Linked DNA regions of Homo sapiens: region 2 is linked to region 1. The links come from fine-mapping of genetic effects on gene expression. A gene starts in region 1. The other region holds a variant in brackets. All regions are shown on one strand. Distances are between the middles of the regions. Region 1 holds the start of KIAA1143. Region 2 holds the start of LINC01988 (long intergenic non-protein coding RNA 1988).

Evidence for each region.
Region 2: its variant is fine-mapped to the expression of KIAA1143 in whole blood (INTERVAL, PIP 0.94).

The regions. Positions count from the first base shown.
Region 1 is chr3:44,754,024-44,770,386 of GRCh38, reverse strand. It overlaps KIAA1143, which reads left to right and starts at 8,768. Exons shown (of 3, transcript NM_020696.4): 1 at 8,768-8,892; 2 at 16,019-16,163. The coding sequence starts at 8,785. KIF15 (kinesin family member 15) reads right to left here and starts at 8,593. Exons shown (of 35, transcript NM_020242.3): 1 at 8,503-8,593. The coding sequence starts at 8,521. RefSeq lists enhancers at 8,543-8,822, 9,613-10,255.
Region 2 is chr3:44,418,277-44,434,639 of GRCh38, reverse strand. It overlaps LINC01988 (long intergenic non-protein coding RNA 1988), which reads right to left and starts at 6,718. Exons shown (of 4, transcript NR_144436.1): 1 at 6,482-6,718; 2 at 6,016-6,085; 3 at 5,699-5,793; 4 at 5,111-5,574. It overlaps ZNF445 (zinc finger protein 445), which reads left to right. Exons shown (of 8, transcript NM_181489.6): 8 at 1-2,935. It also overlaps the pseudogene C3orf86P. RefSeq lists an enhancer at 9,657-9,796. The variant C/A (reference allele first, on the strand shown) is at 9,157.

The DNA.
Region 1 (16,363 bases):
GGGTTCAGCTTTAGAAAGTCCTATCTGAGATTCCTTGTGGAATAGAGTTCCATCAAAGCCAATCTAAAAGCCCTCTGTAAAAATAAGTATTCTTGCTGCACTTCATGCAAAGAATCAAGCCAAGTATAAGACCAAAGTCTATTTTGCAAACAACTCAGTCCTATCATGGTTTGTTTTTAAGAAAACTGAGGACTGGAGAGAGATAAATTATGTTTAAAAACTTATCATCATTAAATTCTAGACCCACTAGTTGTTTTCAAGTTTTTTGCCTAGTTCGTTTAAAAACTAACCCTGCTTATGCCTGTGATCCAACCAGAGATCTCCAACTACAGCCCAGAAGGAACAAAGGGGGATGGGTAATGTAAAAATCTGAATCAATATTCTAGTTCTAAGCAATTATCCTGCAAATCCTGCTAGGTGGTGGGAATAAATACAGTGCCTGTCATCCAGAGGTTTCCTTTTTGGGAAAGTAAGACCAAGGGAGCTAACCAAAGCCAAGCTCCATGCACCCAAATCTTAGCAAACATAACTATAGCCACCAGTTATCTGGGTGTGTCACAGGGCATCCTTTTCTTTCCCTTGGAGGAGGACCCCTTTCACAGCTTCACCTTAGCATTCAGCTTATGATAAGGAGTCCATACAACCCCTGAGACATATTTTTGGTCCCAAACTCAATTCCCAACTTCAGGTCAAAGCCCTAAGAAAAAAAAAACTGGATCTGAGGGATCCAGAAGCAGACGGTAACAGAAGTTAAAAAGCACAGCACAGGTGAGCATGACTAACTCCTGCCGATTAAGCCAAGCCTCCTGTTTCATGGATAAACATCATGCTAGTATCCACGACATAAATGAGGTCTAGAGAACTTGAAGGCTACTGACAGCAGGGGAGATAGGGCGTACGTGGGTAAGCCCTGTTAACATGGGGGAAAGCCGCTTTGACATTCATGGGTGGCACCCTTTGATGATCACCCAGGTCTTGGGGATATAAGGACAGAAGAAATGAAAAGGGGCACGTCACTTTCTCCCTCCCTCACCTACCCTGGGTATTCACTAGGAAGAGAAAGGAACCAGGGACACCTGCTCCCCTCTTTCTTGATGGATTGCCATTCATCTTCAGTCTGTGGCCTTTTTGAATACATCCTGAACCCCTGGGACTCCTTTGAAAAAAACACCTTCTTTTTTCCTTTTCCCCTTGTGTCCTCTCTTCACAGATAGGTAATTGTGTCTCCTTACTACAGCACACTCCCCTTGGATCCATCCTCTAAACTGCGAAAAGTTAATTTCCCAAACCTTAAACTTGAGAATAGCTTAGGACTGGGCTTGGGGGAAGGGAACCTCGAAGACTGACAAGCCAGCAAAAGGGTAAAAATTTTTTTTAACTTTTAACAATCAGGCTTTTGGCCTCCCTCTCCCTGTGCAAACCAGTAAAAGGCCTCGGGATTTTCGAGCATGACTTCTGGCATGACTTCTGTCCTTACCCCATCCTTGTTTTGTTTTGATACATGTTTTCTAATAACTCAGTTTGTCTCTTCTCGCCTTCAGGTCATCAAACTCCAGTCGTGCAACTGGAGCCTCAGATAATGGTCCCTTTTGCCAGGAACCTTTAGATTGGCCTCTTAGGGAAATCTGACTGCCATTTTCCCAACACAGCACCCCCTGTCAGCAGGAAGCAGTTAAGATTGGTCTTTGTCCTTATCTTTATTCTAAGGGCAGTTAGATGTACTTCTTTAGAGTGGGGAATGATAGAGACAGGAGACAGCCAAACGCCTGCCGGGTCACTGAAAAATTCTGTCCCTTAACACATGCGCAGTAAGGAAAATAAATCAATGTGGAGTGGCTCAGACTAAAGGCCCACATGCGCCCTGGGAGAATGGAGTGGAGCCACTGGGAATTTGCACCTTATGCAGGGGGAGAAGCCTGGCCTCTTCAGCTGGTGTATCACACTTTTTTTCACTGAGAGCTTCCTTTTAATAAATTCCACTCTCCTCATCTTTCGATGTGTCCGCGTGCCTGATTTTTCCTGGTCATGCAACACGAACTTGGATTTTAGCTGAGCTAAGGAGCAAAAAATCTTGCATCAGTGGTTTTTTTTTTCTTTTCTTTTCTTTTTTTTTTGAGACGGAGTCTTGCTCTGTCACCAGGCTGGAGTGCAGTGCCACGATCTTGGCTCACTGCAACCTCCACCTCCCAGATTCAAGCAATTCCCCTGCCCTCAGCCTCCCAAGTAGCTGGGACTACAGGGTGCACCACCACGCCTGGCTAATTTTTTGTATTTTAGTAGAGACGGTGTTTCACCATGTTGGCCAGGATGGTCTTGATCTCCTGACTTTGTGATCTGCCCGCGTTGGCCTCCCAAAGTGCTGGGATTACAGTAGTGAGCCACCATGCCTGGCCTGTTTTTAAATACTAGGTACAAATTGATGATTCACAAATTTAAACCTTCCTGGACTGCTGTCCTGAGCTCCACACTCCTTTTTTTTTTTTTTTTTTTTTGAGATGGAGTCTCGCTCTGTTGCCCAGGCTGGAGTGCAGTGGCGCAATCTCCGCTCACTGCAAGCTCCACCTCCCGGGCTCATGCCATTCTCCTGCCTCAGCCTCCGGAGTAGCTGGGACTACAGGGGCCTGCCACCACGCCCTGAGAATTTTTTGTATTTTTAGTGGAGACGGGGTTTCACTTTGTTAGCCAGGATGGTCTCCATCTCCTGACCTCATGATCCACCCGCCTCGGCCTCCCAAAGTGCTGGGATTACAGGCGTGAGCCACCACGCCCAGCCGAGCTCCACACTCTTACAACTTATTACCTATTTGATATCTCTAACTGGATATGCAGTGGGCAATGAATCAAATTTAATGTGTCCAAAATTGAGCTCCTGATCACCCCACCTCTAGCCCAAATGTGTTTCTACATCTCCGTTAACTCCATCTTTCCAGTTGCTTAGGCCAAAAACCATATAGTCATCCCTGACCCTGTTCTTTCTCACTCTTCGTATCCAATCTCAGCAAAGCTTTGGCTCTAATTTCAAAATATACCCACAATCCAACAACTTCTTGCCAAATCCACTGCCACAGTGTAGAACCAAGCCAGCAATATCTCTTTATTGTGTTATTACAATAGTCTTTCTGCTTCTCTTTCTCCCCCACTCTCATCTTTTCTCAACCTAGCGGGCAGAATAATTCTGTTAAAAAAGAGTTCAGAGATTGACTTCTGACATGACATTATGAGGAATTCCACTGACCCACTCCCCAGTGAAACTGGTGAAATTTAAAAAAAGAAAGTTGGCCGGGCACGGTGGCTCACACCTGTAATCCCAGTACTTTGGGAGGCCGAAGCGGGCGGATCACGAGGTCAGGAGATCGAGACCACCCTGGCTAACACGGTGAAACCCCGTCTCTACTAAAGATACAAAAAATTAGCCAGGCATGGTGGCAGGCGCCTGTAGTCCCAGCTACCCAGGAGGCTGAGGCAGGAGAATGGCGTGAACCCAGGAGGCGGAGCTTGCAGTGAGCCGAGATCACGCCACTGCACTCCAGCCTGGGAGACAGAGTGAGACTCCATCTCAAAAAAAAAAAAAAAAAAAAAGAAAGAAAGAAAAGAAAAGAAAATTAAAGCCTCTGGAAATGTTCCCAAAGACAAACAGCAAACCAAGAAACATCTGTTCAAGAACATTCATGAAAATTCATCAAGAAAGTTGATCCTGTGTTATTTGAAACAAGATTGCTGTCTCCCTCCCATCTCAGCAAGGCAAACACTCCACTGTAGATTGCAGCAGCCAAGAACACAGGGATCCCTCCAGCTCCTAATTGCAAGGGGTTCCTCCACAGAGTAGCAGGATGTCAGTGTATCATTGTGTCTCCAGCTAGCTACCTGATGCTCAGATAAAGTCCCAGACAAGTGTGGTTGAGAGGTGAGGGCTCTCCCTTCTCCCACACAGCCCTCATCTTGCAACTGCATGCTAAGAACACTGGGGCCCTGATCACCCTTGCCCCAACTCATTAGGCAGTGGTTCTGCACAAGGAAAGGAAAGTCTAGAAGGTGGGCTGCTACACTCCCCACCTTCCCCACAAAATGCTCAGCAACTACAAAGGGTATCACTCAGAGACAAGACTGCCATTATCCCCATCCCCAACTCAAGTCCCCAGGCTCTGAGATTTTGCCTAAAGGAAGAATCAGCCCATAAACAGATAACTCCTAATCTCTTCCCAAAGGAGCTGAATTCATTTGCAACAAAGCATAGAGAAGTTCAAACCTGTCTAGGTGTGGTGGCTCATGATGTAATCCCAGCACTTTGGGAGGCCGAGGCAGGTAGATCATTTGAGGTCAGGAGTTTGAGACCGGCCTGACCAACATGGTGAAACCCCGTCTCTCTACTAAAAATACAAAACAAAAATTAGCTGGGCATGGTGGCACATGCCTGTAATCTCAGCTACTTGGGAGGCTGAGGCAGGAGAATCGCTTGAACTCAGGAGGTGGAGGTTGCAGTGAGCTGAGTCCACGCCACTGTGGTACAGCCTAGGTGACAGAGCGAGACTCCGTCTGGGGGAGAGGGGGTGGAGAGAAGTTCAAACCTAAGGGCACTCTCAGGAACAGTGTAGGTTTTAGTGAAAGTAATTAGGAAGACATTCAAGATACAAGCTAAATTGCAGGCCTGTTCACTTGCAGAAGACAATGGGGATATAAGACAATTAGGAGTAGCTACACTGGAGTCACAAGAAATATGAAAGAAAACCTCAAAAACTACTCCTTCAATGGAGCAAGAATTGAAGTAGTTTGTAAGACAATTTATGCCCAGGGCATTGTTAAAAAACAATAGAGCAATCAGCTAACAATTACTGGAGTTTAACAGCTGTGTGCAGTCATAGAAAGAAAGAGATCCCTACCAAAACCACTGTCATCCCAGGATAAAGGTGGGCATATCCAAAGCTGGAGCTTTGGATTCCTGAGGAGCAATATCAAAGGCTTAACAGTATAGGAGGGAAATAGACTTCACTAAATTGATCCAGCCAGTTGCTAAGCAAATACACAAGCAAACAACAATAAGAAGCCCCAGAAGGTAGGCTGCCAGCTCTTCATTTCTGCAGAGATCTCTGTAACTGATCAGATGGAAAATGATTAGATGGATACTGATCTGCACTTATGTGCAACTTTCTGGTAAATCTAAAAGGAACCCAAAGTAAAATGTTTACTTGATAAAAAAAGAAGAAAAGTTAATAAGCAAATAGCGAGAGAAAGTGAAATTTAAAACTACACAAATGTAGATAGTTCTGGCATTATTTCTAATTGAGATCTAAGGAAACATCATTGAGAAGTGCTAGGATTTGAACGAAGGCATGCTAAATCCAGATCTCCTACTCTTAACCACCTCAATATGCTACCTCTTGATCAAAGGTTAAAGAGAGTATAAAAGTTTATCATGTGGCTGTCATAAAATTTTGACATTTAAAGGAAGTCTAGGCTGGGTGCAGTGGCTCACACCTGTGATCCCAACACTTTGGGAGACCAAGGTGGGTGGATCATTTGAGGTCAGGAGTTTGAGACCAGCCTTGCCAATATGGTGAAACCCTGCCTCTACTAAAAATATAAAAAATAGCCAGGCTTGGTGGTGGTTGCCTGTAGTCCCAGCTACTCAGGAGGCTGAGGCAGGAGTAATCACTTGAACAGAGATGGAGGTTGCAGTGAGCCAAGATCGCACCCCTGCACTTCAGCCTGGGTGACAGAGCAAGACTCTGTCTCAAAAAAGAAAAGAAAAAAATGAAGTCTATAGGCATTCACTGTAAAATTCTTTCAACTTTGAGGTCCTCTATGTGTCCATCTAAAAATATGCTTAAGTCTATTCTCAGTAGCTTTATTCATAACAGCCCTAACTATAATAAAAACCCAAATGTCAATCAACAGGAGAATAAACAAATCATGGTATACTCACATAATGGAACACTACACAGCAATGAAAAAGAACTGCTGCTACATACAATGATGGACAATGATCACAGACATAATGTTCAGTTGAAGAAACCAGAATAAAAAAAGAATACATACTGTACCATTTATATTAAGTTCAAGAATAGAAGCAAAACTAATCAGTGATAATAATAATCAGAGTAATGGTTGGGGATCAGGTAGTTATTGACTAGGAAGGGTCACAGGGAACTTTCTGGAGTACAGGAACAGTTCTATTTCTTGATCTGGATGGTGGTTACATTAGTGTATTTATATGTAAAAATTTGTTGAATAATATTAAGATTTGTGCCCTTAACTGCATGAAGCTATACCTCAACAAAACAGTAAGTCTTTTAAAGAGTCTTCCTGCTTTAAAACAGACCATTGGATGCTTTACTCTGCAGTCTAGATAAATACTCATCAGTCATTTGCCCAAACATGATTGGGTTCAGAAAGGGAATCTTAGGCCAGGTGCAGTGGCTCACGCCTGTAATCCTAGCACTTTGGGAGGCCAAGGCAGGTGGATTGCTTGAGTTCAGGAGTTCAAGACCAGCCTGGGCAACATGGTGAAACCCTGTCTCTACTAAAATACAAAAAATTAGCAGGGCATGGTGGTGCACGCCTGTAGTCCCAGCTACTTGGGAGGCTGAGGCACGAGTACTGCTTGAACCCAGGAGGTGGAGATTGCAGTGAGCCAAGATTGCGTCACTGCACTCCAGCCAGCCTGGGTGACAGAGCAACACTGTCTTTAAAAAAAAAAAGGGGGGAATCGTATATTTCACTTTTTCATTTCTCTGATTTCACAGTCAGCAACTCATGGTGTCAATGATGTCACTAGAGATAGCCTTCATGGGGCCGGGTGTGGTGGCTCATGCCTGTAATCCCAGCACTTTGGGAGGCCAAGGTGGGCAAATCACGAGGTCAGGAGATCGAGACCATCCTGGCCAACACAGTGAAACCCCGGCTTTACTAAAAATAAAAAAATTAGCTGGGCATGGTGGCGCGTGCCTGTAATCCCAGCTACTTGGGAGACTCAGGCAGGAGAATCTCTTGAACCCGGGAGGCGGAGGTTGCAGTGAGCCAATATCGCACCACTGCACTCCAGCCCGGCAATAGAGCAAGACTCTGTCTCAAAAATAAAAAAGAGAGAGAGAGATAGCCTTCGGGGCACAAAGTAAAAGTTGCAAAGACCACTGCACGGGCTCTCTTCTCCCATGTGTTCCCACTTCATGCTCCAGGCCTCTGGGCTGCTGGGAATGCAAGAAGCACTTTAACTGGGAAGTCATCAACCTCAATTTTGCCAACAAACTTAAAGGAGTGGAAAAGTTCCCCATGGCATCACCACCATCATAAAGGAGAGTGCTCCCACCACTTTAGAAAGGTTCTCAAATTTGGTTTTCAGACAAGAGCCCTCAGTCACATACATATATCTCATTAAATAAGCAGATGTTTTACTTATTTAACAGGCATCAAATTTTTTGCTTGAGTCCAGATTTAGTGACTGATCCATAAAGTGGAAACAAAGAACAAACAGTATGATTGTTCAGAAAGCAGGATGAACATTTCTCTCCAATAAGGTACCATTTTGTGAGCTCATAGTCCTTGAATACTGAAAATGATGAAAGGAAAAGGAATATTTTATATGCAAAAAGGTAGCATAAGGAGGTGTTCCGATTAGGTGTGATCGACCTAAAAGATTAATGAAACAACAAACCCATCAAAAACGACTACAATTGACAGAAAGCTAGAAACATTAACGGCGTTGGAAAGCTCAAATGACAGAAGTTCACAAATTCTTAATCATCTAATCCAGGCCTCTCCTCATTACCATTCAGACCACTCACAAAGATCCCATTAAATCAGCTCATAATCAGGTTTACAAAAATAAGACTCCTTAAGAGATGTGGCAATGTGAGAAGTGGAGCACGTACACAGGCACAGCAAATGACTACGTTAGTGAAAACTGTAGGGTTTATCATAAGCAAAATGACAGTGCTCTCCTCCGTGAAAAAGAGAAAGAAATCGGACGGGTCTCCTTTAAGTGAAAATAGAGACTGTGAGAACATAAAGACATTGCTGACATCTGTGTTTTAACATTCCATTTATTTAAGGAAAGAGGAGAAAGAAATGTTTGGAATATAAATAAACCCTTCCCTATAGGAAGGTCAGAAATGTAGAAATACGCAGAAGCTGGTGGGAGCAAAAGCCGATCCTGAGACAAGGATATCTAGAGAGGTAGCCCTGGTCGGGATGTGGGAAGAGGCCTGCGAAGAAACAGCAGAACCAAGGGAAAGAAAGGGAAGAACGTCAGGTCCACTGCTCATCCCGAGCGCCTAGAACTGCGCCAGACTCCTGGCATGCGCACAGGACACTGAAGGAAGGGATGAGCTTTTCGGCTAGCGTATTGTCTTTGAGCGACAGAGCGGGATTCCCAAACGTCCCCGCCGGTCACTCAGCTCCTGCAGTTCATGCCTAGCAAGAACCTTGCGGGCGGTCCGAGGCTGCCATCCTTTCACAGCTGTATTTGGGGGCAAAAATAGGGTAACGAAGCCGGGGGCCCAGACTTACTTTTGCAGCCGGGTGCCATAGCGCCCTCACCCCTCGATCCCGAAAACAATGCAGCCGGTGCCTCCACCTCCCGACTGCACCGCGCGCGACTGAATTCCGCCCGCTCAAGATGGCCGCAAATTTGAATTTGGCGCTTGGATCGGACGTTGACGCCCGCATGGAGGCCGCCATGTTGCCCGGCCTACGCATCGGGGGCGTGGCCCAGTGACGTCACAGCTAAGCGCCTCTGTATCGTCGCGAATCCGTCGCGGAACCTGTCTTCTGTCTTTACCCAGAGCTACCATGAGCAAGCGGAACCAGGTATCGTACGTGCGGCCAGCCGAGCCGGCGTTTCTGGCCCGCTTCAAGGAACGGGTCGGCTACAGGGAGGGACCCACCGTAGAGACTAAGGTGAGCCTTCGCCAGTCGTGTTTCTTCGGAAGCGCAGCCAGCCCGCCACTTTCAACTTTTGCCTCTACTTGGAGGGTGGGTGCTGTCGGGTCCCTCTTTTCACCCGCGCTCGAACCCAATTCCGGTGGAACTCGGACCCCCAGGCTGGTTCTTTTCAAGCGACCACAGCCCCCTACGCCCAGGAAGCTCTGTAGTTTTCAGAGCGCTGCTGTGTTCCTGAAAATGAACTGACGTGTAAACCACCTGGTCCTTGGTAGATGGTAAAGAAAGATCACTTTATTGTCTCTTCTTTCTCACTTGTTTACCTCAAAAGCTGTGAGTTCGCAGGGTGAGTTAGAGTTACAGCGTCGTCCCGTATTCCAGATAAGGACACAGGCCACTCGATCAAATGACCCCCGCCCCAACCATGTCCTAGGACTCGAGTCTGGAACGTCTTCGGAGGAATGTCCTGAATCTGTTTCTATGCTTTGTTAATTAAAAATAAATAAAAATAATATAGAGAAGGTCGGGCACAGTGGCTCACGCCTGTAATCCCAGTACTTTGGGAGGCCTAGGTGGGCGGATCACCTGAGGTCAGGAGTTCGAGACCAGCAGAGCCAATAGCCAATATGGTGAAACCCCCCGTCTCTGCTAAAAATACAAAAATTAGCCGGGCATGGTGGCACATGCCTGTAGTCCCAGCTACTCCGGAGGCTGAGACAGAATCGCTCGAACCCGGGAGGTGGACGTTGCAGTGAGTTGAGATGGCGCAGCTGCACTCCAGCCTGGACAACAGAGCGAGACTCCGTCTCAAAAAAAAAAAAAAAAAGCCGGGCCTGGTGGCTCACGCCTGTAATCCCAGCGCTCTGGGAGGCTGAGGCGGCAGATCACGAGGTCAGGAGATCGAGACCATCCTGGCTAAAACAGTGAAACCGCGTCTCTACTAAAAATACAAAAAATTAGCCAGGCATGGTGGCGGGCGCCTGTAGTCCCAGCTACTCGGGAGGCTGAGGCAGGAGAATGGCGTGAACCCAGGAGGAGGAGCTTGCAGTGAGCCGAGATCGCGCCACTGCACTCCAGACTGGGCGACAGAGCGAGACTCCGTCTCAAAAAAAAGAAAAAAAAGAAGAGTAAGCAGAAGCCGTAAATATCCTGGGTCTAAATAGAAGAAGAGGAGCTTCAGGAAAGAGCCACACCTGACTATTGTTGTCTAGGGCCGGAGGGATCAGTATTGAACACATGAATGACAAGAAAGCAAAACAGCTACATTGCTGATACAGAGAAAGTTTTAGTGGTCTGGATAGAAGAGCAAACCAGCCACAACATTCCCTTTAACCAAAGCCTAATCTAGAGCAAGGCCCTAACTCTTAAATCCTGTGAAGTCTGAGACATGTGAGAAAGCTGCAGAAGAAAAGTGTGAAGCTAACAGAGGTTGGTTCATGAGGTTTAAGGAAAGAAGCCATCTCCATAACATAAAAGTATGAGATGAAGAAGCAAATTATTCAGATCTAGCTAAGATAGTTGATGAAGGTGGCTACACTAAACAGGTTTTCAATGTAGATGAAACAGCCTTCTATTGGAAGAAGATGCCATCTAGGACTTTTTTTTTTTTTTTTTTTTTGAGATAGGGTCTCACTCTGTCGCCCAGGCTAGAGTGCAGTGGTGCAATCACAGCTCACTGCAGCCTTGACCTCCTGGGCTCAAGTGATCCTCCTGCCTCAGCCTCTCAAGCAGCTGGGACTACAGGCATGAACTAACGCATCTGGCTAATTTTTGTATTTTTTTGTAGAGACAGGATTCCACTGTGTTGCCAAGGCTGGTCTCAAACTCCTGGACTCAAGCAATCCTCCCACTTTAGCCTCTCAAAGCCTCTCAAAAACCACTATGCCTGGGCCATTTAGGACTTTCATAGCTAGAGAGAAGTCAGTGCCTGGCTTCATATTTTCAAAGGACAGGCTAACTCTCTCATTAGGAGCTAATGCAGCTGGTGACTTTTAAGTTGAAGCTAATACTTACCATTCCAAAAATCCTAGGGTCCGTAAGAATTATGCTAAATCTACTCTGCCTGTGCTCTAGAAATGGAAAAACAAAACCTTGATGACAGCACATCTCTTTATAATATGGTTTACTGAATTATTTTTAGCCCACTGTTGAGACCTACTGCTCAGAAAAAAAAAGATTCTTTCAATATATTATTGCTCATGGACAATACACTTGGTCACCCAAGAACTCTGATGGAGATCTACAAGGAGATTAACGTGGGGTTTTCATGCCTGCTAACACAACATCCATTCTGCAGCCCATGGATCAAGGAGTAATTTCTATTTTCAGTCTTATTATTTAAGAAATAACAGCCAGGCGCAATGGCTCACACTTGTAATCCCAGCACTTTGGGAAGTCAAGGCAGGTGGATTGCTTGAGCCCAGGAGTTCAAGACCAGCCTGGCCAACATGGTGAGACCCCATCTCTACAAAAAATACAAAATTTAGCCCAGTGTGGTGGCATGCACCTGTGGTCCCAGCTACTTGGGAGGCTGAGGTGGGAGGATTCCCTGACCCCAGGTAGGTTGAGGCTGCAGTCAGCCATGATTGCACCACTGCACTCGAGCCTGGGTAACAGAGCCAGACCCTGTCTCAAAAAAAAAAAAAAAAGTCAAAACCATTTGTAAGGCTACAGCTGCCATGGATAGTGATTCCTCTGATGCATCTGGATATTGTAAATTGAAAACTTTATGGAAAGGCTTCACCATTCTAAACACGTTAAGAACATCCATGATTCATGGGAAGAGGGCAAAATATCAACATTAACAGGAATTTGGAAGAGGTTGATTCCAACCTTCATGGATGACTTCGAGAGATTCAGGCCTTCAGTGGAGGAAGTAATTGCAGGTGTGGTAGAACAAGCAAAAGAACTAGAATTAGAAGTAGAGCCTGAAAATGTGACTAAGTTGTTGCAGTCTCATAAAAATTGAACAGATGAGTTGCTTCTTATTGATGAGCAAAAAAAGTGGTTTATTGAGATGGAATCTACTTCTGGTGAAGATGCTGTGAACATTGTTGAAATGTCAATAAAGGATTTAGAATAAACTTACTTGGTAAAGCAGCAGCAGGTTTAAGAGGACTGATTCCAATTTTGAAAGGAGTTCAGCTGTGGGTAAAATGCTATGAAACAGCATTGCAGCATCACAAAAGAGAAATCTTTTGTGAAAGGAAGACTCAATGCAGCAAACTTCATCGTCTTATTTTTAAAAATTGCCACAGCCACCCCGCCTTTCAGCAACCACCACCCTCATCAGTCAACATCCATCAGCATCAAGGGCAGACCCTTCACTGGCAAAAAGATTAGGACTCACTGAAGGCTCAGATGATTTTTAATGTTTTTAGCAATAAAGTATTTTTAAATTAAGGTAGGTACATCTTCCAGACTCCTGTTAATGTTGATATTTTGCCTCCTCCCATGAATCGTGTACTTAATGGGATCTAGATTTTTTTAGACATAATGATATTGCATACTTAATACTAACTGTAGTTAGTGTATAGTGTGAACATAACTTTTATGTGAACTGGGAAACCAGAAAATTTGTGTGACAATTTATTTTGATACTTGCTTTGTTGTGGTGGTCTGGAACCAAATCTGCGGTATCTTCAAGGTATGCCAGTAGAATGAGTATGTGCTAACCCCATGCACTGTCGCAGGCTCTGAAAGGACGAAGAGATGGATCTCCAAAATGCCATGTTCTTTAACACTTCCTGCCCTATTTTCACAAGTTACCATCTCTCCGAAACCCTTCAAAGCTCTCCAAACAGTTACTCTTTCTGTTTTTCTCTTTACCTTATCCATATCTTATCTATAACATTCATTTTATATTGCAACTACTTGCTTTCCTGTTTATCTTCACCACTAGATTGAACTCTTTAAGTTAGTATCTTAATCCTTCCGTATTTTCCCAGCACCTAGCACAGTGCCTGGCACGAAGTAGTGGGTAACAGTTGTATTTGTTGGTGACTGTGCTGTTATCAGGTTAGACTTCGTGGAGGAGGGATATTTAGATAGACTCTCGAGCATGGTTAGGTCAGCAGGTAGAGATGAAGAGAATGGCATGGGTAAAGGTGTAGAGATTTGAGAGTCATGGACTGTATGTAGAAGTGTTAGAGGGGCTAGTGGAGGTGAGGCCATGTGGACTATTTAGTAAGCAACAGGGAGCCATTTTTTTCTTAGAGGTAACACAGGGAATGACTGATCCCCATGACTAAAAATAGGGATGATGACAAAGAGGGTAAGGTTTGAGAAAAGGGACATAGATTGAGCGATGAGGAGAAGATGAGACCCAGCTTTACCTTGCTTGAGGTCCTGGTGATGACCCTGTATGCACAGTTGACAGCTTGAAGGTTACAGCTTGGAATGCTATCTTAAGAGAACTTCGGGAATCCTTTCCAAGTAATATCAGTGATTTTCGCTTATTTATGTACTCAAGGGAATTTCCCTTAGAGAAGTACGCCATGTTTCAGTGTGAGAACCACTTCATTTTTAATCAGTTTGGCAATATACAGTATTCCCCCATTATGTTCCAAGACCCCCAGTGGATAATACTGAATTCTATATATACTATGTTTTTTCCCATACATATATACCTATGATGAAGTTTACTATATAAATTAGGAATATCAGCAGATTAGTAACTAATAATAGAACAATCATAACAATATACTCTAGTAAAAGTTGTGTGAATTTGCTTGTTTGCTTGCTGTCTCTAAATATTTTATTGTACTGTACTCACCCTTCTTTCATACTACAGTTGACCACAGGTAACTGAAATTGTGGAACATGAAATTGAGGATAAGGAGGGGACTACTGCAGTCAGGATTTTAGTCATCTATTAACAAAAAGAAATGAGTTTCATGGGAAATCATTCCATAATTAAGCTAAATCATCCTATTCACTTTTATTTTTTTTGAGGCGGAGTCTTTCTCTGTTGCTTAGGCTGAAATGCAGTGACTCGATCTCAGCTCACTGCAACCTCCACCTTTTGGGTTCAAGCAATTCTCCTGCCTCAGCCACCCAAGTAGGTGGGATTACAGGTGCCCACCACCACACCGAGGTAATTTCTGTATTTTTAGTAGAGACGGGGGGTTTCACCATGTTTGCCAGGCTAGTCTTGAACTGCTGACCTCAAGTGATCTGCCTGCCTAGGCCTCCCAGAGTGCTGGGATTACAGGCATGAGCCACTGCGCCTGGCCCTATTCACTTTCTTGAGAGTTAATTCAGAAATGTCTCTGAACAGTCATCAGTGGCTACTGCCACTGTCCTTAGACTATTTCTCTTGTTTTCCAGGCAGTCACATTTAAAAAGAAAAAAAGAGAAGAGAGTCAGAATTAATTATTCTCAATTTAACAAACAAAAGGAATGATTTTATTTCACTTTCCCATATTTTTGGCTAAAAATACTTACTACCTATTTGTGGTCATTTATTGGAGACTTTCAGAGAAAAATTGGCAGAAACTGATGAATAATCAGTGAACTAACATAGATACCATTAAAGAGAATGTACTTGTGCAGTGATAGAGCAGACTTGAGAACTTGAGTTATAGTTAAAATGGCACAAGCAACTTGCCAGGGCTTCATGTAGTTCATCATTTTCCATTCTGTTGGTCATTCATGAGTAGATCAACAAATATTTCTGGAAGTCCCTGCTGTTTTCCAGGCTTTGTGCCTCTCCAGAAGGCACTTGCCCAGTGGAAACCAGCAGAAAAACATTGGTACCACAGTGCAATACATGCTACCTATGAGCTATGCACAGTGTAAGAAACAAGAGAAGGTGAGATTTAGGTAAGCACTTCTAGAGGCTCTAAATCTGGAAGGCAGCTTGAGTAGGAGTTGCTCAGGGGCTGTGGGGCTTAATAAGCCGTAGGAATTTGTTCAGAGACAGGGGAAGCAAAGGAGCTAATATATTTATAAATCTCCAAGTACTCAAACCTTGCCATGCCAGAGTCTAGATGCCATGAGAGAGTGGTACAGGATAAAGCTGTGGTTATGGGCTGAGGCTAATTCTTGCAGGGCTTTGTCGCCTTGTTTGGGAGACCAGGAAGTCTCTATGAGAAGTGGAGTAATGAGTGATTGTGTTTGAATAACATATGAAAACATATTTTGGTATGCATACCTTTCAACCCAACAGTTCCACCTCTAGTGAACTGTTAACATTAAAAGTTCTTGCATACAAGTTCCCAAAAGTGAGCAAAAATGGGTGCATGAGGTTTTTTCATAGTAGAAAAAAATCTGGAAACGAGCAAAATTTGTATTTACAAGATGCTGGTCAAATAAATCTTGAGGTGACCATATATGTAATTAAATGCAAGGCAGTGATTTTTTAAAAATCAGATAATTCTATATCTTAAAGTACTGTACAAAGATATTTTTTGAGTTAAGTTGTGGGAGTGGGGCTCTTACGGTGTCTCACATTTCAAAAATCTGAATCAACTGGCAAAATATTACCATCTGTTACACATATACAGGGAGTACATGGTTTCTGTTATGTTATTCTCTGTACTTTATGTTTGAGAAATTTCATAAATAGGGAAAAAGCAAGTCACAGGAATAAGTACAGTGTTGTTGGTATACAAAAAGTTTTATGTACCTACATAGTTGTATAGACGTGGAAAATAGCTGATAGAATATCCACCAAACTGAAGCTATTAGGAGGGGGAAAAGATGAGCAGAGGTGAGAGAGAGAGTACGTTTTACTTGCTGCTTTCTGTACTTTGATGGTGTTTATTTCTTGTCTAACTCAGAGAAGAGACAGGCAAAAAGTGCTGATGAGGAGCAAACAACTGACATGGCACAGTGCTGCCCTGAGTAGGCTAGGAGTGACAGCAGTACCCAAAGCAGAGGGTCCCTCACACTAGTAACTACAAGCTGGGTCCTGCTGAGATGGAAATGAATCCCACCGGACAGGCACTCCAGGCTGAATGGCAGTTAAACCTGTTCCCTTGTGTGGCAAGCTAAGTCTCTTTGGAGTTACCTTAAAATTCATTGCCCTTATTTACTCAATAAAGATACCCTTCTCATAAATAATTACAGTTTCTCTTAGAGGCAGTGGTTCTGTTTGTCTCAAGATCAGTGATCTACACATTGTATTTGTGTTTTTCCCTAGAGAATTCAGCCTCAGCCCCCAGATGAAGATGGGGATCACAGTGACAAAGAAGATGAACAGCCTCAAGTGGTGGTTTTAAAAAAGGGAGACCTGTCAGTTGAAGAAGTCATGAAAATTAAAGCAGAAATAAAGGCTGCCAAAGCAGGTAGGTCTAAAAGTAATCTGGTTTTTCTAACAATTTAAGGAGCCCAGGGTATGAAATTGTTTATTTTATTTAGTAGTGTGGTGTGTTTCAAGGTGGCAGTTCCGGGTTCAAGCCTTAGCTTTGACACTTACCAGATGTGTAACCTTGAGCAAGTTATTACACCTCTCAGCCTCGATTTCCTCATCAGTAAAATGGAAATA
Region 2 (16,363 bases), 340 kb after region 1:
AGCTCATGATCTAGTTCCCAGGTCCTTTGAGAACCTTTTCACCCTCAGGACGACACACTGGTCCATTATATTGATGACATTATAGTCACTGGACCTGGTGTACAGGGAGTAGCAACTGCTCCAGACATGTTGGAAGACACATAATATGACTCAGTGTAGGAAATAAACCCACAACATGGCTAAGGGCAAATAATGTTTCCAAAACTTCTTTCTCTCTTTTTTTTTTCTTTTTTGAGACAGAGTCTCACTCTGTAGCTCGAGCTGGAGTGGAGGCAATCTTGGCTCACTGCAACCTGCACCTCCTGGGTACAAGTGAAGCTGCTTCCTCAGCCTGTTGGGACTACAGGTGTGCGCCACCACGCCCGGCTAATTTTTTTTTTTTTTTTTTTGGTAAAGGCAGGGTTTCACCATGTTAGCCAGCTTGGTCTTGAACTCTTGACCTCAAGTGATCTGCCCACCTCAGCCTCCCAAAGTGCTGGGATTACAGAAGTGAGCCACCAAGCCAGGCCCTTTTTCTCTCTCTTTCCAATAGTTACATTCTATATGTTTAAAAGGGACACGAGACAATTTTGTATGTGATTTTCTGAATCACATAATTCCACATTTAACATTTTGGGGAAATGCCAAACTGTTTTCCAAAGGGGCTGCCTGGGAGTCTCAGCTCTAGTTCTCAGTCCTCAGCAGCCATTCCTTTCCTCAGTGGGGCGTCAGTGCTGCCTTCCAAAGTCCAGGGCTGCCTTGAGACCTGATCAGGACCGGCTATTTTGCCAGGTGCAGTGCATGATGTTCAAGACCATTCAGAATTTCAAGACCCTGACAGCAGAGCAAGATAGCAGGCGGAGGCCATTCTAAGTGTGGGGCCCCGCAGGGCTGCCCAGGCTGCCTGCCTGTGAAGCCAGTCCTGCCTGATGGAGATGCTTTTGCCATGGCGTGAGGGAAAGTGAGCTGATGGTTCTCCACTTTCCCACTCTCTCTCTGCAGGTCCGGCTCCTCTAAGGGCAGAAGCCAGAACTTGGTCCCTGAACCTTCTCCAGTCTCCCTCCCTGGGCATTTCTCTCATAACCCCATCAGACCCCCCAGTAATGGCCTGACGTGGGTTCTGGAAATAGAACATGGGTTCTTAGAATGGCTCTCTGAGACTTCATTGAGTTGTCTGTCCTATTTCTTTCCTCAACAAAATGTCCACATCCTCAATCTCCTGTCTCAGCAGGAAAGATGAAAAGAACAGTGAGGCTTAGGCCAGGCACGGTGGCTCACACCTGTAATCCCAACACTTTGGGAGGCTGAGGTGGGCAGATCACCTGAGAACGGGAGTTCGAGACCAGTCTGAACTCCCTGTCTCTACTAAAAATACAAAAGTAGCCAGGCGTGGTAGCGGGCACCTGTAAATCCCAGCTACTGGGGAGGCTGAGACAGGAGAATCGTTTGAACCTGGGAGGCGGACGTTGTGGTGAGCCGAGATAGTGCCACTGCACTCCAGCCTGGACAACAGAGCGGGAAAAAAAAAAAAAAAGAACGATGACCCTTAGCATCCCAGGAAGCTTTGGGTGGTGAGAGATGGAGAGTATCTCCTTCCTGTGGTACTTCAGTTTCCCGTCTCCTTGTTAGGATGTTGCAAAGCTGGCCTGCTGAGGTCTTCTGTGATCTCCTGTGCTTCCTACACTTCCACCTGAAAATGAACCTACTGCAGGGATGAATCCATGAGCAGAATTTTAATGAAAAGGAAGCAGACACAAAGGAATCCATGGGTTGTAACTCCACCGACTTAAAATGAAAAACACAGGCAACAAAGAACAGGCACGATGCTGCTTCGCCAGCTGGTTCCTTGTTGGGTTCTGCCATTCAGGGATGTAAGAGGGAAGCTGGGATGTTGGAGGACTGGAGTGTGAGGGTAAATTTTAGGTGTCAACTTGGCTGAGCCACAAGGTCCCCAGGTATTTGATCAAACATTATGCTGGGTGTTTCTGTGAGGTTGCTTTGGATGAGATTAACGTTTAAATTTGTGGACTTTGAGGAAAGCAGATTGCCCTCTATCTGTGGGTGGGCTTCATCCAATCACCTGAAGACCTGAGGAGAACATAAAGTCTGGCTGCCCCAGACTCTCTCTCAGGCAAGAGAGAATTCTTCCGCAGACTGCCTTCAGAGTTCATGCACACCATCTACTAATCCTGCTCCACAGCAGGTGCCACTGGGCTCTCACTGGAATATGTATTCTCCTGGTTCTCCAGCCTGCTCATCCACCCTGAAGATTTGGGACTTGCCAGCCTCCTTAATTCTATAAGCCAATTCCTTATCATAAATTCATAAATCCCTCTCTCTCTATCTCCATCCACACACACACACACACACACACACACACACACACAGACACACACACACAAATGAGTGTAGATGTGTTCCAATAAAACTTCATTTAGAGACATTGAAATTTAAATTTCAAGGGCTGGGCATGGTGGCTCAACGCCTGTAATCTCAGCACTTTGGGAGGCTGAGGCAGGTGGATCACTTGAGGTCAGGAGTTCGAGACCAGCCTGGCCAACATGGTGAAACCCCGTCTCTACTAAAAATACAAAACATGTAGCCACGTGCAGTGGCTCATGCCTGTAATCCCAGCTGGGAGGCTAAGATGGGAGAATAGCTTGAACACAGGAGGCAGAGGTTGCTGTGAGCTGAAATGGTGCCCAGAAGACAGAGCGACCCTGTCTCAAAAAAATAAAAAATAAAAAATAAATTTCATATAATCTTCAGATATATTCATTCATTTACATATTGTCTGTGGTTGTTTTCACCCTTTAGGTCAGAAGTAGCCGACAACCTTTACACAGTATTTACCACTGTTATAGACATCTTTAAATATGGTTTACTTTTGCCTGTTTTTGTACTTTATAGAAATGAAGTAATAAAGTATTGTCTGTCTTGCATTTTTTGCTCAAAATTACGTTTGTCAGTTTTATGTATGTCATTGCATGTGATGATGCTGTATTTTCATTATATCATGGTATTCTGTGTATGATGATACCACTGTGGAGCTCTAGCCCACTCTTTTTTTTTTCTTCTTTCTTTCTTTTTTTTTTTTTTTTTTTTTTTTTTTTGAGACGGAGTCTTACTCTGTCACCCAAGCTGGAGTATAGTGGTAGTATCTCGGCTCACTGCAACCTCCGCCTCGCAGGTTCAAGTGATTCTCCTGCCTCAGCCTTCCAAATAGCTGGGATTACAGGCATGCGCCACCATACCCGGCTAATTTTTGTATTTTTAGTAGAGACGGGGTTTCACCATGTTGGCCGGAGTGGTCACGAACTGCTGACCTCAGGTGATCCACCCGCCTCAGCCTCCCAAAGTGCTGGGATTGCAAGCATGAGCCACCGTGCTCAGCCATCCAGCCCACACTTTATGGACATTGGGCTCTGCCTAGTTTTTGTCCTGGCTCACTGGGGATGGCCTATGTCCAGCTCTATGAAATTTGTAGCAGGCCTTTGAGTTCCTTTTAGCAACGCTTGATTGTGCCAGATCTCTCCATGTTCACTAATATCATAGGCTTGCTATGAGAAGCAACACCCAAAATCTTGTCTTTGCTAGCAGCACCAGGGCTATCTCCTACAAAGACTGCCTCTTCAGAGCCACAGCTCACAACTGCCTTGGCTGGGGTGTATGAGTGGCTGATTTTTTTCAAACTTGCAAGGCACCAAATTATTCAACTGTTTGTGTGTGGCAGGCCAGTCAGGGGTTACCTACATTAACAACACTCTGGATCCTTCTAGCTCTCCTTGCACACTGGCAAGCTCCAGCCAGAGACCACTTTTCTCACAGGACTTTGTTAAAAGCAGCCAAGGAGGAGCCAACAAAACCAGCATTCTGGATTCTTGCCGTTTTCCTAATGCCACAGATTTGGTCAAATTATGATCCACCCTCCAAGCTAACACAGGCTGCAACCTGGCCAAACATTTTACATGAGGTGCCAGCCTCCCCATCTCGAGGACGGGGATACTGCTAAACATTCTACACTGCCCAGTGCTGTCGCAACAACAAGGAATTATCCAGTCCCAAATGTCAAGAGTGCCAAGATTAAGGAACACTGCTTTATTTTATTTTATTTTTTTTTTTGAGACAGAGTGTTGCTCTGTTGCCCTGGCTGAAGTGCAGTGGTGCTATCCTAACTCACTGCAGCCTCAAACTCCTAGCCTCAAGTGATCCTCCCACCTTAGCCTCCTGAATAGCTAGGGCTACAGGTGCGTAACACCACACCCAGCTAATTTTTTAAAAACTTTTATGTAGAGATGGGGGTCTTGCTAGGCTGGTTTGAACTCCTGGCCTCAAGTGTTGCTTCTGTCTCGGCCTCCCAAAATGCTGGAATTACAGGCATGAGCCACAGTGCCCAGACCAAAACCGTTCTTTAGCAAGACATTCCTGTAGTCCAGGTCTGCTCATGGTAAACTTTTTATCTTGAAAGTCTTCATAGTTCCCTAATTGTTGAATAATTAGCTGAACGTACAAATCTGAGATGTCTGATTTTTTTCAGTATGTTAATGATACTATTTCATTAAATTTTATCATTTTTAATTTCAATTCATCAGATATTTTCCCTAGCAGCTTTCAAGGTTTATCTTCAGTGTTTCATGCTTTTGCTACAATGTAACTAAGTGTGGATGTTTTCAATTATCCTCTGTGGGATTCAGTGGCATCCCTCACTCTGAGAATTCCTGTTTTCCATCAATTTTGGGAAATTCTCAGCTTTATCTCTTGGATGTAGCCTCCCCTTTCCCTGTGTGATCTCCTAGAGCCTGTCTGTGCTCTGTTGGAACTTTTCCTTCAAATGTCCTGTCACCCATCTCTGGACTCCTTAAGGAAGATTGCACTTCAGATCTTGTTTGAGTTCACTTGGCCCCTCTGCTACCTGCATCTTATCTTTTTTGTGCGTGGGTGATGGAGTTTTGCTCTGTCGCCCAGGCTGGAGTGGCGCGATCTCAGCTCACTGCAACCTTTACTGCGCCCGGCCTGCTAACTGCATCTTATCTGATGTTTAATCTGTCCCTTGAGTTTTTATTTCTAATGATATTTTTCATCTCCAAAATGGGAAAAGCACATGTTAGCACAAATAATGAAACACTGGATATTGTTTTCTAAGGAATTTATTTGAAAGAATTATATCTATGGAAAATAAATATTCCAAAAAAGCTCTGAATTTTAGATGTTGAGATATTTCAAAGGTCAAACCAGGCCACGATTTGTGCTGGGTTGAAGGCCTGTGAGGACCCCATGTGGGACCCCCTGTGTGACGATCACAGCCTGGAGGATGACCTTCTGGGGGCTGAAGGGCATCACATTTTTGGACAAATCATAAATGTAGGAAAGCTCTGGGGCTGGTGGGAGTGGCTTGGGGGATGGGAAATGTGGGGCTCAGTGGCATAGGGAGTGGTACCTGTGGCCCACGCTTTCGGGGAGGGCCTGGGAGGGGGAAGCGCAGGATGCTTGTGTCAGGCAGTAGCAGAGGGCTCCTGGCATCAGCAGGCACCGGGCCAGTGCTTCTTGGGCCACTTTCTCTTAGGCAGCAGCAGGGGGTGTCCCTGGACTCCGTGCCTGTGTGGGAACACGAGATGGGCCTCTGGGACAGGGAGGAGCCACCTCCCCAGCACCACATCCAGACAGGGGTCCACATTGCAGGATCCGCAGAGAAGCAGGAAATGGTGCAGGAGGATCTAACCTGGATGCAGGGTAGGTTATTTGTTCTGTGACTTCATTTGCCCACATGCATGTGAGTAGAGGCTTGTTCCTTGACCCCAATTGACTTTTAGACATCTGAAGGAGAGAAAAGACAGCCTAAGTGAGTTCTCCATCAGTGGGCAATAGAGGAACTCACCCTCATGCTGCACACCTTCAAAGAAACTGTGTGGTCTGTGGACTTCAACAAACTAACCCATGCTCCAGGGGTACAGACTTTGTCAGACAATTTAAAAGCTTTCCCAAGAATAGGAGAGGGCTCATAAGCTGTCCCAAGTGAATTTCTAGGTTTGAACAAACCTTCAGTAAGAAACACGGTGGACACCTCCAAGTCATCCTCTCCTGACACACGTTTGCCAAGGTCCATTTCCTATGAATTGATAGGTTCTATTAGTTTTTATTTATTTATTTATTTTTTGAGACAGAGTTTCACTCTTGCTGCCCAGGCTGGAGTGCAATGATGAGGTCTTGGCTCACTGCAACCTCCGCCTCCCTGGTTCAAGTGATTCTCCTGCCTCAGCCTCCCAAGTAGCTAGGACTACAGGCGTGTGCCACCATGACTGGCTAATTTTTTGTATTTTTAGTAGAGAGGGGGTTTCACCATGTTGGCCAGGCTGGTCTCAAACTCCTGATCTCAGGTGATCCATCTGCCTTGGCCTCCCAAAGTGCTGGGATTACAGGCATGAGCCACTGTGCCCGACCGGTTCTGTTACTTTTATAAGGCATGAAGGGATAATCCTTCCTGGTGAAATCTGAAAGTCCTTACCTTCTAGGTTACTGAGGTTTCGAGGTCTGGGCAGCCGATTGGCTGTCTGATGTGAGGTGGAGAAGATGGGCCTGGTCAAAGGGGCAGCCTTTGGATTGGAACTGGATGCCCAGTCTGTCTGGGAGAAGGAAGGCAGTGAAGGGAAGGACCACGAAAAGGAGTGGCAGAAGACTGGCAGTCCCTTCACCCCACAGCCCTCTGCTTCATTCTCTGGCAGCTGTCCCTGACCTTTGTGACATCGAGGTCCCAGCCAATCACAGCACTCACTCCTGCTGTCCCAACAGCCTCCAAGGCAAATCTCTGGAGACTCCACCCACTGAGCTCCTCCCCTGGGGTTCTCTAAGCACTCTGAATTTGTGGACAAAAGCCCCTTTACTACCAGCATAACTACATACTTCACTTTCACAAGTTGGCATGCCTGGGTGAGGGCAATTATTTTAGTCATATGAGCTTCGATTTCTGGGAGAGTCAAGTCAATTCAGTTTTTGAGAGTGCTCTATATTTCAAGGGTGAATTTATATCTGTTATTTTACTTTATTTATTTATTTTTGAGAAAGGGTCTCGCTCTGTCATCCAGGCTGGAGTGCAATGGCATGATCTCGGCTCACTGAAGCCTCCGCCTCCTGGGTTCAAGCGATTCTTGTGCCTCAGCCTCCCGAGTAGCTGGAACTACAGGCGTGTGCCTCCACGCCCAGCTAAGTTTTGTATTTTTGGTGTAGAGATGGGGTTTCACTATGTCGGCCAGGCTGGTCTCTAACTCCTGGCCTGAAGTGATCCACCTGCTTTGGCCTCCCAAAGTGCTGGGATTACAGATGTGAGCCACCATACCCGGTCAAAATTTTTTATTTTAAATAAGTTATGGAAATGATGAAAACATTTCATTTACAAAATAAATGTGGGCCGGGCGCTGTGGCTCATGCCTGTAATCCCAGCATTTTGGGAGGCCGAGGCGGGTGGATCACCTGAGGTCGAGAGTTTGAGACTAGCCTGGCCAACATGGTGAAAACCCATCTCTACTAAAAATACAAAAAATTAGCTGGGCATGGTGGCACACACCTGTAATCCCAGCTACTCGGGAGGCTGAGACAGGAGAATCGCTTGAACCTGAGAGGTGGAGGTTGCTGTGAGCCGAGATTGTGCCACTGCACTCCAGCCTGGGGACAGAGTGAGGCTCCATCTCAAAAATAAATAAATAAATAAAATTAATGTAGGAAATTTAGGAAGTTTGAATTATAAGAAATCTAATTTTGGTCTGGAATAAGCCAAAATATTGTACTAACATTTTTTAAAAAAATAAACTAATAAGGAGTGAATCATGCTAACATTTTCCTTTATTTTGAAGTTGGCGTCTTTTCTTTTGTCATAGCTAGTTTAAAAGGTTATCAGGGAAATACATTTTCTAGTGTCCATAAAAAATAGTTCAATAACTTTTTTCTTTAGACAATTTAGACTTTACCTGAACTAAAAATTCCTAGAATATATGCATAACGGCTGAATGTAATTTTTGTTAAGTCTTTCATTTTGTTAAGTTTTCAAAAGAGGGAAAAGGAGAGGAAATGGGATAGAAAAAAAATGAGAGGGAGCTGGCTTTAGACAAATAACTAATCATTTTTCTCTGTAAGAAGAGGGATGAAAGTTTAGACATATATACAATACACACACGAGAGTGTCCTATATCTGGTTTTGACATAATTTCAGTTTGTGACAATTCTATCAAGCCATACAATTTTTTAAAAGCCAGAATGTATTAATCTCCAACTTATGGAAAGGAAGGAAGTGATGCCTCCCTGTGAAACAAAATGATCTGTCATTTAGGCAAACAAGACAAAGATTTTCCTCATGAGGGGTCTTTTATTCTTGATATCCAGAGTCTCCTTAAAATGTTTAGCCAAGCCCAGGTGCAGTGGCTCATGCCTGTAATCCCAGCACTTTGGGAGGCCAAGGCCGGTGGATCATGAGGTCAGAAGATCAAGACCATCCTGGGTAACATGGTAAAGCCCTGTCTTAGCTAAAAATACAAAAAAAATTAGCCGGGCATGGTGGCGGGCGCATGTAACCCCAGCTACTTGGGAGGCTGAGGCAGGAGAATGGTGTGAACCCGGGGAGGCAGAGCTTGCAGTGAGCTGAGATCACGCCACTGCACTCCAGCCTGGGTGACAGAGCGAGACTCCATCTCAAAAAAAAAAAAATGTTTAGCCAAATATTGATGTTTATGCAATAGAGTGATTTGCCAGCCAACATTTTTGTTTACCCAACATAGTGACAGTTTTGGACCTGAAGCCTTTCACAAAATGTGGCAAGGGCATTGGAAATGTCAACATTTTAAAGATGCTTGGTCGGGCACGGTGGCTCATGCCTGTAATCCTAGCACTTTGGGAGGCTGAGGTGGGTGGATCACTTGAAGTCAGAAGTTTGAGACCAGCCTAGCCAACATCGTGAAACTCCATCTCTACTAAAAATACAAAAATTAGTTGGGCGTGGTAGCACAGGCCTGTAATCCCAGCTACTCAGGAGGCTGAGGCGGGAGAATCACTTGAACCTGGGAGAAGGAGTTTGCAGTGAGCTGAGATGGTGCCATTGCACTCCAGCCTGGGCAACAGAGTGAGACTCCATCTCAAAAAAAAAAAAAAGAAAAGAAAAAAGAAAAAAAAGATGCACATGAGGGAAAAGATGCT[C/A]CTATTTCATATTAGTTATAGCTAAAGAATATTTTAGAGAAGCATTTTTTGAGTCCAAATTGTGTTTAGGAGCCTCCTCATACCAATTAAAGACAGCAGACCATTGGATATTCAGAATTTTGCTTTGTTTTTGTTTTGTATATATCAGAGTTTCCCCAAAGTGATCACTATAATTCTAAATTATCTTTGGGGAAATTGTACCAGTTAGAAAGCTATGCACATGAAGGGAGCCGGTGTTTGGCCTGAAAGAGGCTGAGTTTTCGATAGAAAAGACTCCATGGGAACTTCAGCGTGTCCACAGGGTGGTACTTGTGTGACACTGCGTCTTGGAGCCAGCCAAAGACTAACCAGCATTCAGGGTTGTCCAAGGCTTGGAAGACAAAGCCCTCAAAGCACACTGATCAAGAGCTGGACGCCATGGTGGGGGCAATAAGCTCTTAAGCTTGCCAATATTCACAGCAAGGGGGTTTCCAAGATCAGCTGGGGGAAGGTAATGGAATGAGTTAGAGTTTCCTGGGGAAACTGCCCCTGTGTGGACCGAGGTGGAGAGGCCCTGGGGAGGAAGGGAGGAAGCACACCTGGCCTCACCAAGCACACTGCCAGAGCAGGTGAGCTGAGCCAGGGAGGGAAGAGGGGACAGAGGCTTCTCCTTCACCTTAGCAATGGCCTCATGCTACGGACAGGCCTGCAGCAGTCTCTGGGAAGGCCCAAGGCTACTAGCACCAATGGGGAAAGGCTGCTGGGCAAGCCCCTGGGGGCTGGGAAGGGATTCATTTCTCACTAAGCTCCAGCAGCCCTGTGGACTGCCCCACATCGGGTGGGCACCATCAGGCAGGTGAGGAGAGGAGAAAAGCCTGCTTGGGTGACCTGGGGCCAGCCCAGGAGGACGACTGTTCCATCTTCTGCCAGCACCATGGGCTGGCTCCATGGGACACACAGCAGCCGCTGGGTCCATAGAGTGGGGAACGTGGTGAGGATTCAAGGTGGGCCTGGGCTGGGCAGTCCCAGTAAGCAGCTGGTGACATGGGGAGCTGCATCTAATTCTCAGGGAGACCAGGGTGTGAAGAGGGTGTGAGGCCCAGCAAGCCAGACCCAGGGGAGTAGGGAGGGGATCACAAGATGTTCCTGATCCAGGTAGCCCTGGCTACCATTATACTGAGCACAAACCAACCTTGTCAGAGGACATTGCCCCTTGTTTATAAATTTGGGTTCTAGAAAAAAACCCCGATGCTGTTTTTTGGAGCCATGTGATGGGACTGCTGGAAACCAGGCAGGGAAAGGCAATGGCAGGCACACTTCCAGTTTTGGGGCATCAGGCACTGTGACAGCGAGGATGGTGCAGGGGTGAGTGGGGAGCTGCCCTGCAGGGGTCTGAGATCACCAGGCAGAAGCTAGGCTGGGATAGGGCGGGAAACGCATTACACAACAAAGATTAGATTGCAGGGGCCCCAGCCTTCTAATGCCCCTCCTGCTCTCTGAAGCTCCCTCCACAGACTCCTCCACCCCAGAACCTTCCGACAGGTAAGCTTCAAACCCTTCATACCTATCCAGTTCCCTAGCTCCTGGCCAGCCTCTAACTGTTCAGCCCCCGAACCCCCTGTTTCCACCCACCCTGAACCAGGGGATCTCTGCAGGTTGTGCTGACTCCCCCATGGCCTTGTGGCCACCAGGGGATGCTGGGGAAATCCTCTCCACCTGAGCAAATCAGAACTTCCTGTAGGACACAGGTGTCAGGATCAGCTTCTGGTTGAGCTGGTTGATATTCTAGGTAGCGCACCTTGAAGTTTCTCAGGATTGACAGTCATTGTGTCTGTTCTAAAGAAGGTGAAGGAATTTGATGGAAAGAAAGTAGGAAGAGTCGCCCAGACTTGCAGGCTGCCTCCTGTACTTATTCTGAGAACGTGTTCACATGGCATAGGCGTTTCCTTTTGTGGCCATTTGTAAGAATGGGAAATGAATGACTTTTTTTTTTTTTTTTTGAGACGGAGTCTCACTCTGTCACCCAGGCTGGAGTGCAGTGGCGTGATCTCGCCTCACTGCCAGCTCCGCCTCCCAGGTTCACGCCATTCTGCTGCCTCAGCCTCCCAAGTAACTGGGACTACAGGCCCCCGCCACCAAGCCAGGCTAATTTTTTTGTTTTTTTTTTAGTAGAGACAGGTTTCACCGTGTTAGTCAGGATGGTCTCAATCTCCTGACCTCATGATCCACCCGCCTTGGCCTCCCAAAGTGCTGGGATTACAGGTGTGAGCCACTGCGCCTGACCAGGAAATGACTTATTCTTACAAATGACCACAGGTGTGGCTGCTTGATACAACACCCATTTATTTATTATTTATTTATTAATTTATTTAGAGACAAGGTCTCCCTCTGACATCCAGGCTGGATGGAGCGTAGTGGTACAATCTCAGCTCACTGCAGCCTTGACCACCCCAGGCTCAAGCGATTCTCCCACCTCAGCCTCCTGAGTAGCTAGGACCACAGGTGGATGCCACCACACCTAGCTAATTTATTTGTATTCTTCTTCTTATTATTATTATTATTTGTAGAGATGAGTTCTCCCTGTGTTGCCCAAGCTGGTCTGGAACTCCTGGGCTCAAGCAATCCTCCCACCTCCCAGTGTTGAGATTATAGGTATGAACCATCGAACCAGCCACAACACCCATTTATTATCTCATACCACTGAAGTCCCTAAGTCAGCAAGTGTGGCTCTGCTTAGGGTCTCACAAGATTAACATCAAGGTTTTGTCTACCTCCAGCTTTTATTGGGAGCTCTGGGGAACATCCACTTCCAAGCTCATTTTGTTGACACAGTTTCCAGTAAGCCCTTTCCATTGTCAAGCCAGCAACAGTGGGTTGAGTCCTTCTCATGCTTAGAATCTCTCTCACTTCTCCTGCTGCTGCATCTATCTCTGTGATGCCAGTCAGAGAAAGCTCTCTGCTTTTTAGGGCTCGAGTGATTAGATTGGGCCACTTGCATAATCCAGGATAATATTCCTAGTTCAAGGTCCATAATTTTAATTACATCTGCAAAGTCCCTTTTGCCATATAATGAAACACAGTTGTGGGTTCCAAGGATTAGGGCAGGGCCATCTTTGGGGGACAATTCTGCTGACCACACATGGTCATGTTTGTGTAAAATTTGCAAGAGTGATTTTTTTGGTCTTCTTTTGTATCAGATTCTCCATCCTTCTCTTAATTGAAGATTGTGTTTTTCAAGCTATGGTTCATCATTGCTGCTTTCCTTACAAAATGAATTCGAATGGCAATCAGCATTTTCTTAAGGAATATAGTAGATTTAATTACATAAAAAGAATTGAAAATATCAGAGACTATTGTACATAACTATTTACGTTCCATGAAATTGTTAGTATACACACACATCCCTGAACTAGGTCAGGACGTAAAGTATACTTAGTATACTTGGTTAAGATGAAAATATTTTGAAAAGACCATTTAAGAAGAAAATGACCCTAGAATTCATCTGGAGCTTCCAGTTAGGAGGCTAGAGCTTCCTGTTCCAGGAAGGCTTGGTGCTCCGGGAGAGAGTGAGTCCCCTGGTGAAAGGTTCAGGCTGAGGGAAGCCCAGGCCCTGGCAGTTCCCCCTGACCCTCCACCCGACATATGGAGGCTGGAAGGCCCACCTGTGTTGTCTCACTTTTCTCCCTTTTAGGTATGTCTAGAGGTCAGTTTGGACAGGGACAGGAACCTCTAGACATGTTTTTCTGGGTGAACGAGATAAGCGGAGAAATCACCTACCCCCCGCAGAAGGCAGATGCACCTGCTGTTTCTCCTGAGAGCCCACAAAAGAAGCCCCCATTTCAGCCCAGGAGTGTGCAGGAGGCTCCTTGCAGTCCCCAGGGCCCGCCTGCACAGAGGCCTGCCCTTGCACCTCCATCTAAGCCTTCTCTGAAAGACTCAGGCTCAAGAAACCCCTGCCCATCTGCACCCACCTGGGCCAGGCCAAAGCCGGAGGAGTGAGGAGCCCCCACCGTTCTCAGCAATCCCTGTCACCATCTCATCACCAGGAGTGACTCTGCCCATACTCGGACCCCTGGGACCAGCCCTTCAGCCACCGGTCTCGACCTCTCCTCTCAGCCCTTCTGCACCCTGGGCCTTCACCTGCAAGCTGAACAATGTCCTTACTGGGAATAACTGGTTTTCCTTTTGAATCTTAAGAAAATTTGTCTGGCTACACTCTTTAAGCACCTTCCTGAGCCACCCGTGGCCAGGCTCTGCTGGCCGCATCTGCCTGGCCCCATCTACCTTCCCTGGAAGCACAGGACTCACCCCAGGGGTCTCACAGGAACATGCCCAGTGCTTTCAAACCCAGTAAAATTTTACTTAGATTTTGACATAACGTTTCCTAGAGCTTCCCTTAACTTCCTTTAAAATACCAAGCCATCTTGGTATTTTACTCTTAATTCTTTGGGCTTCTGACATTGGTGTCAAAGCAATATGTTTAGTTTCCAGCCAGAGCCAGGAGACCTCCTTGGGTGGGAATGGGAACAAGCCAGGATGACGGACCTGCAGGCCCAGTGTCCCTGGGGCACAGCCTGGGGCCTCCTGGGCTTGAGGACAGCACTCAGGGCAGGGAGGGGCTGGGGCCCTGCATGGAGCTCCCTTTTGAGACAGCCTGAGGCTGGAGGAAGCTAGCAGTGGACACCACACTTTTAGGTAGGGTCACCCCCATCCCCAGCTCTGTGCTTTCTCTGGGTACTGCCTTTCAGCCCTCCAGGCATGGAGTGACTCAGGCAGTGTGGGAAGCAGCCCCATCACAGACCTGGCCCTCCTTGATCAGGCTGGTTGAGGGCTGGAGGAAGCCTCGGGGGTACAGGAGTGCATCCTGGGGGAAGGACACAGACCTGGCCTGGGCACACAGAGTGACCTGGTTTGAGGAGGAGCTGCTGGAGAAGCCCCACTAGTGTCCCTGAACAGGTGCTAGGTGGCTCCAAGTTGTACCGGAGCAGCTCCAGGTGAAATGCGTCATCAGGATGGACTTCAAGTACATCAGGAACACTAGAGAGGAGTGGGGCATGCAGAGCAACGGCAGGTAGGTGTGGCCAGAATCGGACGTGCAGCCTGGCCGGCATCGCTGAGCATTAGCCAGCCTTGCAGTGCATCCTCGGCTTTGCCAGTGGAGCACTGTGCCCTGCCACGAGGAGCTTGAGTTGCTGGGTACCAAGGAAGTGGACTTCTGAGGGCAAGGAAGAACAGAGCTACCTAAAAGAGGAGATCCTGGTGCTCCCGGCTCATGGGTGCCTAACCACAGAGTCCTGGTGGAGAAACACCCTCCCCTGCCCCTCAGCAGGCTGCACCAGCCCAGCCCTGGAATCATCACACCCAGGCGGCTCCCAGGTCTCATCTGATTCTTGGCCGGACCCAGGCCTCCAGAGGCTTTCATCCTAGGTGGGGCAGGTCAGAGGTCAAAGGTTAGGGTGTGGCTCCGTGTCTCTTTCCGACTAGGGCTTCTATGTTATTCCAGGAAATGGGCCCATGGTGGACCCTGACCCTTCTGAGAGTTCTCTGAGCTGGGGGCATGGGCCTGGGATCCAACCTCAAATCTGCGGCCACTACGTCCTGTGACGTCGGCAGGATTCTGCCTACCTTGGCCTCAGTTTCCTCCCTGCACAATATGGGAGTGAGCAAGCCAGTCTGTCAAGCCTGCTCAACCTACAGGCTATGACAAACACTGGGAACAAGAGGTAGCATGGAAGTCAGCCCCAGGCTGGGGTCAGCTGATCCCGAGGGCCTGGCTGCTTCTGAGGGTGGGAGAGGGCAGGGCCCATCAGCTCCACAGGGTGGGCGGGAGGACTGGTGTGCACTCCCTGTGCCCCTTGCAGGGTGGCCTTGATGAAGTCCTTGGTGTCACTGCTGGTGGGCACTCATGAGGTGCTCCAGGACATCCACTTGTGCATGGCAACACGGCCAGCAAACAACGGAGAGCAGGCCAGGCTGGAGGGCAGAGGGAGGGCCGGAGCCTGCAAGGTCATCTGGGCCCTGGGCCTTGGAGGGAAAGGTTGCCAGGGCAGGGGCTGTGGGTCTCTCAGGCAGAGTGACTGGGACCAGGGCCTCCAATCCTAACCCAGCATGGGCTCTTAAGCCTCATGCTCCTCCAACCCACAAGAGCCCCAGCCAGTGTCATAGAAATGCCCAGAGAGATACAAGCCCAGCCTGCAGCAGGAATCTGAGTTCATGCTGGGGTGGGGATCAGGGCTCAATGTACACCAGCAGAGTCTCCAGGGCAACAAATCCCCTGGACGAGCCACCGTGCTCTGCCCTGTGGCCTGGCAGGGCCACTTCTGCTGACAGTGGATGTATGAAAAAACCTGGGCAGCAGTTTCCTATCAAAGTTGGCCTTGTTGCCCATTTCCAAGACAGTTATCACTTTGAGCTCTCAGAGTCTCTAATCCAGAAAGGCAACCGACAGTGGGTGTGGGCCCCCTCACGTGGGCTTGGTGCCCTGTGTTGGATGACGGGGGCCTTGCAGTTAATAAAATCAGCAACTTCACCCCAGGCCAGGATATGTTTGTGTGTGTGGTAGGGAAAGGGTAGGGGGGATGGAAGTGGGATGAGTAGGGATCTGTGGGTGATCGCATTCTTCCACTCCCTGAAAGATGAGGAGATGGAGGGTCAGAGGTGGAGAGACTCTAGAAACACAACTGTGAGGAGAGGGGCTATTTGGTCATGGAATTCACATTCTGCCCCCAGTGGCAGGAGTGGGAATTGGGGGGATCTTGGGAGTCGAGTGTCCTTGGGGATCACAGACCATAGAGACAAAAGCTGTCAGGCCTGGGCAGGGAGGGTGCCCAGGCCATGCATTCAGCTGACTTGCTCCTGGGGGTTTGTTCTGAGATCCCACTCAGGTGAGCTGAACTTGCTGCACTGTGGCTCTGATAGGGTGATGTTTTGAGTAAAGCCCAAATCTCAGGTTTTCATGTCTCCCACGCAGAATTTGTGTCAAGGGGTGGTGGCCTGTTTGGGGCAGAGATGAGGGAAGGGTGAGGGGGTTCCAGGTCTGTATTAGTCTGTTTTCACACTGCTGATAAAGACATACCCAAGACTGGGTAATTTAAAAGATGTTTAATGGACTCACAGTTCCACGTGACTGGGGAGGCCTCACAATCATGGGGGAAGGGGAAAGGCACACCTTACATGGCGGCAGGCAAAGAGAGAATGAGAGCCAAATGAAAAGGGAAACCCCTTATAA